Homo sapiens: one gene and its partners. The protein of the gene in region 2 purifies or fractionates together with the protein of the main gene of each other region. This does not show direct contact. Each region holds a gene or a part of one and is shown on either strand. Other genes may lie near its edges.

Region 1 (3,500 bases), on a different chromosome or scaffold from region 2:
CTTGGCACCTGAGCCCCAGTGGAGATGGTCCAAGCACACTGCAGGCACCCTCAGGTGCTGGTCAGGCAGAAGGCAGTGCCTGAACCCATCTGAACCTTGCTGGCACGCTTTAGAGAACTTAAGGGGCAGAGGATTCTAGGCTTTGGGGACACTGCCTTCACCTGTTTATGCACAAGCTTCCACAGAGGTCTCTGTGAGAAAACAAAGTGTGAAAACTCATGCAGGCAATAGAGCACGCAATTGAGAGGCAAACAGTTGAGTTTCAAATCCCTGTTGCACCCTATCACCGATGTGACAATACTGATCACCTTCCATTCTTCCTGCCTGGTTGTGCAGATACGTGGACAGCACAGGGGAAAGGTAAGTGGTGGCAGTGACAGTGACTAGTGTTGGCTGCAGTGCAGGGACTGGAACAGGTGGAATGTAGGGTCTCAGCCCTCATTTCCATTTCTCCCTCCTGTGTCTCTCACAGCCAAAGGCAAGTGGATACAAATGAGCAAAAATGATGGCCTTTGATTGCAACAGGACCTATTTCTAGTGAAAAGTCAGGACTAACCTAAGTGTCCATCAATAGGGGACTGGTGAAATAAATAGCATTCATACAATGCAGTCATTAAAAAGTCCCTGGGGGTGGTGGAGATTGCACTGACAAGCAAAGAGGCCCACAACACAGTGGTAAGAAATGCACACAGCAGCATACACAGTATGTTCTTGCTTTAAAACAAACTGAAGAAGGAAAAGAGCTCTATGTGTGTGCGCCTGCATGTGTGTGTGCGCTTACACATGCACAGATCGTGTCCAGAAGGCTGCATACCAGTGCTCTGAGCGGTCACCTCTAGGGAATGGGACCAGGAGGCATGAAGGGCCTTCCAGGCCAGTTTCAGCACCTTACAAAAGTAAGGTGGTCCCTTGGAGCCCTAGAAAGCAACAGATATTCGGGAAGTAGTTCCTGGTAGACCCAGCCCTTAAGTCCAAGAACTAGTTGCTCACTGTGTGGGCTGAGGCTGGGGGTCAGTGAAGTCTCGGGCTAGGGAGGGCTCACTTCAGGTGACTGCAGCAGTGTCAGAGGTGTCTAGGGAGTAACCTTGTCAACTGATGGTCAAGGGCAATCCTAGAAAGGTTTTCGACTTCCTGCTGGACAAGTGGAGGTACAGGGTCTTGAGTCATCTTCTTCATACAGGCGGATTCACGATCCAATTCTATTTCTCACATGCTCTGGCAGGCAGCACAGTGGCGCTTGTCCACTAAAGGCTGAGTGCATGCGGAACACCCCAGCTCTAGTACCCAGAGTGGGGCAGCCTTGGCAGATACTGCTGAGTGAACATAGCATTTGCCCACAGAGAAAATGGGGCCCACAGATCCCCAGTGTGTTCTGACAGGACCTGGCCTGATCATGCCACTTGGGCAAACTCTCTGCCCTCCATGGTTACTCTGGAAGGGGGAACACTAAAAGCCTGATGGCAGCTTTTGGCCCCACCTCCGCCCCACGGCAACAGGCACCTGCTCCAGCTGGCTGACGGCCTCCCAGAGCAGTGAGTGCAGGCTGGAGAGCTCGCGGCCCAGGTCGATGTAGCCCTCGAAGCCGGCTGTATTGGAGAGGGTCTCGGGGTTGGAGATCTCCAGCAGGAAGCGCTGCATGTTGGTCCACTCATGCTCTAGGAACTGGTTCATGAAGGACATGTATTCCTCCTTGCTGCCAAATCTGGAGAGAGGGCAGTTGGGTGAGCACTACTGGGCCCAGGCAGGCCCTGCCCAGGAACTCCCTCCACTGGGACACCACCACCCGCTTTCCCCACTATGGCAGGCTCCCACTCCATTCACTCCCCAAGTCAGCTGAATATGCTCTGACCCAGGTCACCAGGGCCCTCCTTGCTCATGGTAAGTCCAGCGATCCTTTTCTGAACCTTTTATCTCAGGACCTGGAATGTTCTGTGTCCCCCATACACTGCCTGTTAACAGTGTCCTTCGGCTTTTCCTCCAAGTTTCACTGCCCTGGTATGCAGATGATGCTCAATCCCTGCTCAACCCAGGTCTCCCAATGAGCTTTCAGGCATGTATTAATATATCTGCAGGCACCACCCCTGGGAGTCCCTCCTACTCAGCCTGCCACACCTGAAGTCATCATCAACACCCAAACCCATGCCCTCCTCCTGAGCTCCCTACCCTAAGTGGAGACCCCACTACCCATACAGATACACCTGAGACAGAATCTCTGGCAGCTGTCAACTCCTCCCTCTTCCTCATTCCCAAATGGCACGGCCCACTGATTTTGCCTTCTAATCACCCCTAACCTTGTCCCTTGCAGCCACTGCCTCCTGTACCCGCTCCCCTCCCTGCGAATTTTCTGCTATTGTTGCTGGAACCACAGCTATGCTCTCCTTTCACGTCTCCTGGCTACCATCCTGCTCCCTCCAACCCATCTGCCCACTGCTGTCAGGGTGAGCTTTTCAGGATCCAGAACAGAGGAAGGCCATCCTCTCCCTTGTTTAAAACCCTCTGGTGGCTCCCACAGCCCTGTCTGGCCTTCAGGTCCCTGCTGTCCTCTTAGGTCTCATCGCCCGCTTCTCCTGACCTGGCACAGTGCATGGCCCTCCCTGGGATGCCCAGCCTCTGCTCCTCTTGAGACAATGAACGCCTCACCCTGACATGCAGTTGGGGGATCATGTCACCCTGGAGGCTTTCCTGTCTCCTCTCCCAACAAGCTGAGAGCCCTCCTAAGAGGCTCGTGTGTGTCTATCACTGCTCTCCTGCTCATTCCACACGTCTCCCTGGCTGAAGTGCTGAGCGCCACCAGGACTGATTCATCTTGGTGCCGTCAGAGCCCAGCACACAGATGGCCCCAGGATGGGGCTCAATCTATGTTTTGAGAATGAACAACAGTGAGACGACCCAGCCCTTCTACTTCTGCCCACTTGCTCTAAGGATGCAGCCAAAAACACCAATAGTGCTTTATCAGCAAAGACATCCTGATAGCCTGACACCAGGATGGTGGTGCCCAACCCAAGTGCCCAAGCACAGGGAATGGATTAAGGAAATATGGGCCAGTCCCCCTTGGAGGAATATTAGTCATTTATTTCAAAACAGGGCTTAATGAATGTTAAGGGATATGTGAGAATCCTTATAATAATACATTAATTCAAAAAAGCAGAAGGAAAAAAATGTCTCATGTCGTCACCTTTAAAAATTAAGAAACATACCAAAATGACATATACCTTGAGTAGAAGGACAGGGTGTGGAGATTTTATTTTTTAAAAAGCGGGAAGGAGAAGGACTGAGGATGACAGGGACAAAACCAGGGCCTGTTTATGGTCTCTGCTCAGCTTGGGGGCAGAAACACCCCCAGGGCCTGCCCTGTGGACACCAGCCCTGCCCAACTCTGCCTGGTGAGGGAGGAGGCACTCACTTGGCAAAGTTGGCCAGGTTCTGGGTGACCTTGGCGATGAGGGTGAGGGTGCGGGCAGTGCGGTCATCAGGGTACTCCTGCAGCAGGTTGAAGAGTG
Region 2 (4,218 bases):
CTTTCAGCATCAAAAAAGGAAACGTTCTGCATGCCCATATCCAGAAAAATCCCCACTCGCTGTAACTTGCGGTCTACTAAGAGGAAAGTCAGCGGCACCGTGCTGGCAGAGAGGCGGCTTCCATCCCTCAAACTCACAGTCCAGAATCCAAGCTCTGTGGTCAGCTGGATCTTCCCTTTGCAGTGAACAGATTCTCTGCAGACTCCCAGGTCCCATTCTGTGCTTGTTCCCACGTCCACCTCCCAGTAGTGGCGGCCACAGGTAAAGCGAGGGGAGCCCAGGATGCAAACGGACACGTCAAATCTCTCGGCAAGGTCTTGCCGATTCTGTGTGATGAGCCCACTTCGGACGCTCCTGAGGTCGTCAGAAATGAGGAGGAAGTTGTTGGCTGTGTCGGCATCCAAGGTCATATCCACTGTGAAAAGGAAAACAAGTTGCTCAGCAAGTGGACAGAAGCCAACCCCATGCCTCTCTTCTACTTCAAAGGCCCAAATATCTCCTGACTTTAGTTTCTTTAATTCTGTTTCTTCCTCCAAAATCAAAACTTTTCATGAGGAAACTTCCCTATTTCAAATTTTCATAGGTATGCTTTGTGGCAATACGTGACTCTTATTCACAGTAGCAATTCTTATTTTACTTTACGTCACGTGTTTGCTTCACTGAACTTTTCTTCATTTAGAGTGGAGGGTCTCTGAAGGCAGACACCATGCCCCCCTTTCTACCACCTTGATGTGTGAACAAATAAATGATAATTAAGACAATGCAAGTGGTCAATATTAAATATGTTTCTGCTTCCACATTTTATTGCTCCAATTCAGTATATAGAGCATGATTCCAGGCTTTTGTTTTCCATGTTTGTAAACAAATTAATTGTGCACAGTTCTGACAGCAGATAGGGTATCTCTGCAGCTGACAATGTGATGACAGAGATGCTGGTCCTGGACATTAGGAGGCTCTAAGGCCAGGTGGAGGAGGGGGACCTTTTAGATGAAAGAATGTTTTCTATCCTACATGGAAGGTGAGACCTTAAGCAAAACAATGGTAAATTTTGGAGCCAAGAGAAAGGTATTTGAAAGTTGTCTGTCATAACTGACTGATTGTAGAGAATAAGGGCAGAAAATACAAAGGTCAATAATTTAAGGCATTGGGTATGTGACTGACAGGTGAAGCCGCCAATTCTCATGGAGGAGGCAGTGTGATCTGGCCTAGAGAAAATTAATTGTCCAGAACATTCTGAAAAAAAAAAATCTACAAAATATATTATCCTTCAAGTCAAAAAACTGATATGATCACTAATATAGATTTTATAGATCACAGTAAGACTACCCTAGTCAAGACTAGGGATTGATTGCTATTTAATGGTGAATTAGGGAATGGACATGGACAAGGAAGGAGGAAGAGGGTTCCAAACATGACTTGGACAGGGTGAATCTCTGTCCTCCATAGTTCAGCAGAGAGACAGTCAGGTATGGGTAGATGGATGAGTAGAGATCATGGGTGTCAGGGCAGAAGCTACCAGTGTCAGGGACATTATAGGGGCCCACCACCATTTATAGGTGTAATTCTTTGCCCAGGCTGACCATAACCTTTTCATTTAAATGTCCCTTTTCCCCAGAGTTATGGAGAGTGATAGTATTTTCTGTAGCCAGGACCACTGTTGGAGCCCATGGCGCATGGATGAGGAGACCAATATCTGCAACTCTCCCCACTCACAGAAACAAACACCATAGGTGCTCCATTCCCAACTCTTCTCAACCCTGGGGTGAGGTTGTTTGGTACAATGGGTGCCAATATTCACTGTGCATTAGAAATACCAGGCCCATCTTAATGTCAGATTCATGGGAACCTTTGCTAGAGAGAAATTCAAATTCAGTTGCTCTATGTTTTTGCTACTCAGCAAAGTCCCCAAGCCAGCGGGATCAATCCTGAGACTTCCCAGTTCAGCATCTGCATTTTAACAAGATCCCCAGGTAATCTGAGCACACTAAGTTTAGAGAATCCCTTGTCTAACCCATGACATAGACATCGGGTTTTTGTTTGTTTTTGTTTTTGACATCACCAGGTGATTCTATGTGTTGTCAGGGCTGAGAATGTGATGATGAAGCATCTCAATTTTAGGTGCCAGACAGCAGCTAATCCCCATGTGGAATGAGGGGCCAACTGCACAGATGATTTTTCCTGGTCTGGTCTTGGGAAGGGGGCAGGGTATACAGATTCCTTACCTTGGAACTTCCGCATCCTTGGGTTCATCTGTAGAATCTTCTTCAGCTTGGGCTCCAGTTCCTTGATGTGGGAAACCAGCCTCTCTAGCTGCCGATTGGGCCTGATTTTGTTCCTCTGAGAGACCATGGAACAGCAACAGCAAAGCAGATCCTCCCCATGGGGCTCCTTCTGCAGCGAATTGATGCACTTGAGGCAGACGGTGCATCCACACTCCAGGGACATTGGTTTTTCCAGATAGTCTGAGCAGACGGGACAGCTGCTTGCTTCTTGGAAGAGTGCAGCCATGTCCACTGCCAGGGGAAAAGTACACAAGGGAAGAAAATTTCCTTGAGGTGAAAGCCTGTTAGTTGTGACAAGTGACAACCTTTTCATGCATAGAGGTATTGTGTTCCAGCTTTGTCACTCCGAGAACAAGACCATGAGTACAAACACTCAAGCACATCCCCCCACCCCCCGTCCTCAGAGATTTGAAGTTCTATTGGGAAAGTCACGAATCATCACTGTGCTCTGAGCTGAGGTGGAGGAAGGGTCCATTCTCCTGGTGACCCAGCAGCTGAGCCTGAGCCAGTGACGTGGCAGCACCCATGTGAGGAACAGCGAGCTGGGGTCATTTCACCACCTCCTAGGGGAACCCCAGCAAGAGACTGATTGATGAACATAAGAATTAGGAGCTGAGAGGCTGGGCACGATGGCTCATGCCTGTAATCCCAGCACTTCGGGAGGCCAAGGTGGGTGGATCATCTGAGGTCATCAAAAGTTCGAGACCAGCCTGATGGGTGAAACCCCATCTCTACTGAAAATACAAAAGAATTAGCCAGGCGTGGTGGCACACGCCTGTAATCCCAGATACTTGGGAGGCTTTGGCAGGAGAATCGCTTGAACCTGGGAGGCAGAAGTTGCACTGAGCCAAGATTGTGCCATTGCACTCCGGCCTGGGCAACAGAGTGAGACACCATCTCAAAAAAAAAAAAGGGGGCTGGATGCAGTAGCTCACATCTGTAATCCCAGCACTTTGCGAGGCCAAGGCAGGAAGATCCCTTGAGCCCAGGAATTTGAGACGAGTCTGGACAACACAGGAAGACCTCATCTCTACAAACAATACAAAAATTAGCAGTGAGCAGAGACCACGCCAGGTCACTCCAACCTGGACAACACAGTAAGACCCTGTCTCACCAAAAGAAAAGAAAAGAAAAAAAATTACATCCTTCTCCAGCCTTGGAAATGAATACCAAATTAACTGCCACCACTGGTGGGCAGGGGACAGGCTCGGAGGTTCCCTGAATGACAGAGAGTTGTTTTAGGAACCTCATGTCACACCCTTCTGAGACACTGTGGACCATGTCTGAGGGGTCCTACACTGGCACTGAGGGGGCCTGACCCCTCTTCATACACTGAGGTCAGGGGGCTCCCAGGTACACAACAGGATGCTGACCTCCTGCCGCTCGCCCACCCACAGGCCAGCCCAAGGCCACCCCCTTGGTCACTCTGTTCCCGTCCTCCTCTGAGGAGCTCCAAGCCAAAAGGCCACACTGCTGTGTCTCATGAGTGGCTTCTACCCGGGAGCTGTGACGGTGGCCTGGAAGGCAAACAGCACCCCTGTCACCCAGGGTACGGAAGTCACCAAGACCTCCAAACAGAGCAACAAGCACACAGCCAGAAGCGACCTGAGCCTGACACCCGACCAGTGGAGGTCCTGCAGCAGCTACAGCTGTAAGGTCACACACAAGAGAGCACTGTGGAGAAGACAGTGGCCCCTGAAGAATGTTCTTAGGTCCCTGACCCTCACCCCACCCATGGGGGCCTGGAGCTGCAGGATCCCAGAACAGAGATCCCCTCCCACCCCAAATCATCCAGCCCCTCTCCTTGTACCAGTAAACCCTTAATAAATATCCTCACCGTCAACCAGAAATCCTGCTCCCTCTCTTCATTTCTTAGCTAACATATAATTTGACACTCACCCTGGGTTCTTAGTGTGTGTAAGGGGGGATTACTTGC
Region 3 (3,500 bases), on a different chromosome or scaffold from region 2:
GTTCAAAGGCTGTAGCTACTTGTAACACTCTTGTCCACTAGGAAAGAATCCACAGTGGCACTGACTTTCTTCCTTCTATGGACATCAAAAAGTACTGAAAAATGTTATGAATAGTTAGGAGAAATTCAAGAGACAGCCCAAGAGGCTGAACCAGTCCCACTAGATGGCACCATCACAGGGAAGTCACTCTGCTCTCTTATTTGGAGCTGCAGGGGCTGAAATCTTTTTTGATCTTTGAAAAACAAAGCTGTCATCAACACAGTGATATTCTTTTTTTGTTTTGTTTTGTTTTTTGAGACGGAGCCTTGCTCTGTCGCCCAGGCTCACTGCAAGCCCCGCCTCCCGGGCTCAGCCATTCTCCTGCCTCAGCCTCCCAGGTAGCTGGGATTACAGGCACCCACCACCAAGCTCAGCTAATTTTTTGTATTTTTTAATAGAGATGGGGTTTCACCGTGTTAGCCAGGATGGTCTCGATCTCCTGACCTCGTGATCTGCCTGCTTTAGCCTCCCAAAGTGCTGGGATTACAGGCGTGAGCCACCGTGCCTGGCCCTAACACAGTGATATTCTTATTGGGAAATAATGATCCAAAATGAGAATTCAAAGCCAGGGAGAGGAGTTTTTCCAAAAGCACCCTTTTCTCCCAGTATCATCATCCCCTCCACACCCCCATTTCAAATCAATAGTCTGAGAGGTACGATGTCTTACTGGTAAAAGAAGTAATACAAAGGCTGGGCGCGATGGCTCACACCTATAATCCCAGCACTTCGGGAGGCTGAGGCGGGTGGATCACCTGAGGTCAGGATTTCGAGACCAGCCTGGCCAACACGGTGAAACTCCATCTCTACTAAAAATACAAAAAATTAGCCGGGTATGGTGGCACGTGCCTGTAATCCCAGCTACTCGGGAGGCTGAGGCACGAGAATTGCTTGAACCCAGGAAGCGGAGGTTGCAGTGAGCTGAGATCGCGCCACTGCACTCCAGCCTGGGCAACAAGAGTGAATCTCTGTCTCAAAAAAAAAAGAAGTCATACGAAATGGAGATTTTCTTTTCCCGGCTCTGCAAACTACAGAATTAATTTTTTTCTTCAAGTTTCTTTGTTATGGAAAAAAAAAATACTCTCCTGCTAGTCCTCAAATAACAAATTCATTGTAATCAATATACTTACCGTGACTGGAAATATCAAAGTAACATACGACTACTTAAGCTGGGCACAGTGGCTCACACCTATAATCCCAGCACTTTGGGAGGCCGAGGCAGGCACATCACAAGGTCGGGAGTTCGAGATCAGCCTGGCCAATATGGTGAAACCCCATCTACTAAAAATACAAAAATTAGCTGGGCATGGTAGCAGGTGCCTATAGTCCCAGCTACTCAGGAGGCTGAGGCAGGAGAATAGCTTGAACCCGGGAGGCAGAGATTGCAGTGCGCCGAGATTGTGCTACTGCACTCCAGCCTGGTTGACAGAGCAAAACTCTGTCTCAAAAAAAAAACAACTAATGGAATAAAAACAACTGGAAATAAAGCTGGGTGCAGTGGCTCATGCCTGTAATCCCAACACTCTGGGAGGCAGAGGCAGGTGGATCATTTGAGGTCAGGAGTTCAAGACCAACCTGTCCAACATGGTAAAACCCCATCTCTACTAAAAATACAAAAATTAACAGGGTGGTAGTGGCGCACGCCTGTAATCCCAGCTATCTATAGGCTGAGGCAGGAGAATTGCTTGAGACTGGGAGATGGAGGTTGAGGTGAGCCGAGATCGTGCCACTGCACTCCAGCCTAGGCTAGAGAGTGAGACCCTCTCAAAAACAAACAAAAAAACTGGAAATAGGTAAATTTCTTTTTCTGTACAGAGAACTTCTTTCTATGTTAAAGGTAGAATTTCCTATTAAACAGATAGGTTACTGTATTAAAGTTTTCTGATACCTTAGTTACATGACTTTAAGTTGGGTCTAGACAGCAACATGTTGAATGTCACTCATTCTTATCACTTATGCCCTACTCCATCAAAAGTATACTTGAATACAGCCATCACGAACCTAAAAACAGAACAACAACCCTAATCCAAAGATCAGTGAGCTTAACTATGTAAAATTTGAATACAAACTTACTGACTTACGGGAGGCGGGGGTGGGGGGACCATTTAAACAGACAGATCTGGACATTAGCCTTATGCTCAATCTTCAAGTTAAAAAGACACATCAGAGGTCATTTAGAGATCAATTTAGTATTCAAATATATTGCTCACTTCTATTTGAAGCTACTTCACCTAGATCAGAGAGTTTACATTTGTAAATGTAACTTCAGTATACAACGTCCAGGGGCACAGCCACTCTAAAGTGCCACAAAAGTAAACTGTTTAAGTGGCCAAAGAAATTAAGAATATGTAACAAATCCTGTGTTCCCACAGCACCTTGTCACAGCTCTAATACAGATCTCATCACGGTATCATCTCTCTCTCCCCATACTGCAGATGTGGAGGTACTGTGCTCAAGCATCAGCCCTAACACCTTGCACAATGCCTAGCATACAGCAGGTGCTCAATATTTGTTGAATAAACAAAAACTATCAAGCTGGTTGGGCGTGGTGGCTCATGCCTGTAATCCTAGCACTTTGGAACACCAAGACAGGCAGATCACTGGAGGTCAGGAGTTCGAGACCCAGCCTGGCCAACATGGAGAAACCCTGTCTCTACTAAAAATAAAAAAAATTAACCAGGCATGGTGGTGCATGCCTGTAATCCCAGCTACTCAGGATGCTGAGGCAAGAGAATCGCTTGAACCCAGGAGGCAGAGGTTGCAGTGAGCCCAGATTGTGCCACTGCACTCCAGCCTGGGTGACAGAGCAAGGCTCTGACTCAAAAAAAAAAAAAACAAAACCCTATCAAGCTATCCCGGCTCACCAAAACTGTGAGACCCATCAAAGAAGCCCATTTTTCCAACTAAACCTCAACACGCCTTCTCCTTGGAGAAGCTACTAACTAAAGCACGAGATCAACACCCAGGTTACCATGAGACAGGATTTCTTGAAAAGCACAGAAACAAATGTTGTATCACACTGGTTAAAGATCAAAAGCTCAGCCAGGCACAGTGGCTCCTGCCTGTGATCCCAGCACTTTGGGAGGCTGAGGCAGGTGGATCACCTGAGGTCAGGAGTTCGAGACCAGCCTGGCCAACATGGTGAAACCCCATCTCTACTAAAAATACAAAAATCAGCTGGGCGTGGTGGCGGGCACCTGTAATCCCAGCTACTCAGGAGGCTGAGGCAGGAGAATCATCACCTGAACCCAGGAGGTGGAGGCTGCAGTGAGCCGAGATCACGCCATTGCACTCCAGCCTCGGCGACAAGAGGAAAACTCTGTCTCAAAAAAAAAAATTCAGTAGCTCATACGTTCACACATCTCAAGCCCAAGTAATATGATCTTGGACCAATAAAGCTTTTAAATAAAATATCGTAAATATACTTTGCATACTGTATTAAAATCAAACATTTTACACATTGT

The links. The genes of interacting proteins can lie anywhere in the genome.
Region 1: the proteins of RFPL3 (region 2) and DAB2IP purify together in Homo sapiens (affinity purification with mass spectrometry; 3 studies listed by BioGRID and IntAct, with this or other methods). This does not show direct contact.
Region 3: the proteins of RFPL3 (region 2) and TLK2 purify together in Homo sapiens (affinity purification with mass spectrometry; 3 studies listed by BioGRID and IntAct, with this or other methods). This does not show direct contact.

Annotation. Positions count from the first base shown.
Region 1 is NC_000009.12:121,766,634-121,770,133, reverse strand, and holds part of DAB2IP (disabled homolog 2-interacting protein), read right to left. Parts: coding exon 3,404-3,500; intron 1,703-3,403; coding exon 1,501-1,702; intron 1-1,500. UniProt on the Homo sapiens protein: Functions as a scaffold protein implicated in the regulation of a large spectrum of both general and specialized signaling pathways.
Region 2 is NC_000022.11:32,356,449-32,360,666, reverse strand, and holds the start of RFPL3 (ret finger protein-like 3), read right to left. Parts: upstream 2,801-4,218; 5' UTR 2,596-2,800; coding exon 2,223-2,595; intron 762-2,222; exon of another isoform or gene 416-761; coding exon 1-415.
Region 3 is NC_000017.11:62,481,825-62,485,324, reverse strand, and holds part of TLK2 (serine/threonine-protein kinase tousled-like 2), read right to left. Parts: intron 1-3,500. UniProt on the Homo sapiens protein: Serine/threonine-protein kinase involved in the process of chromatin assembly and probably also DNA replication, transcription, repair, and chromosome segregation. Phosphorylates the chromatin assembly factors ASF1A and ASF1B.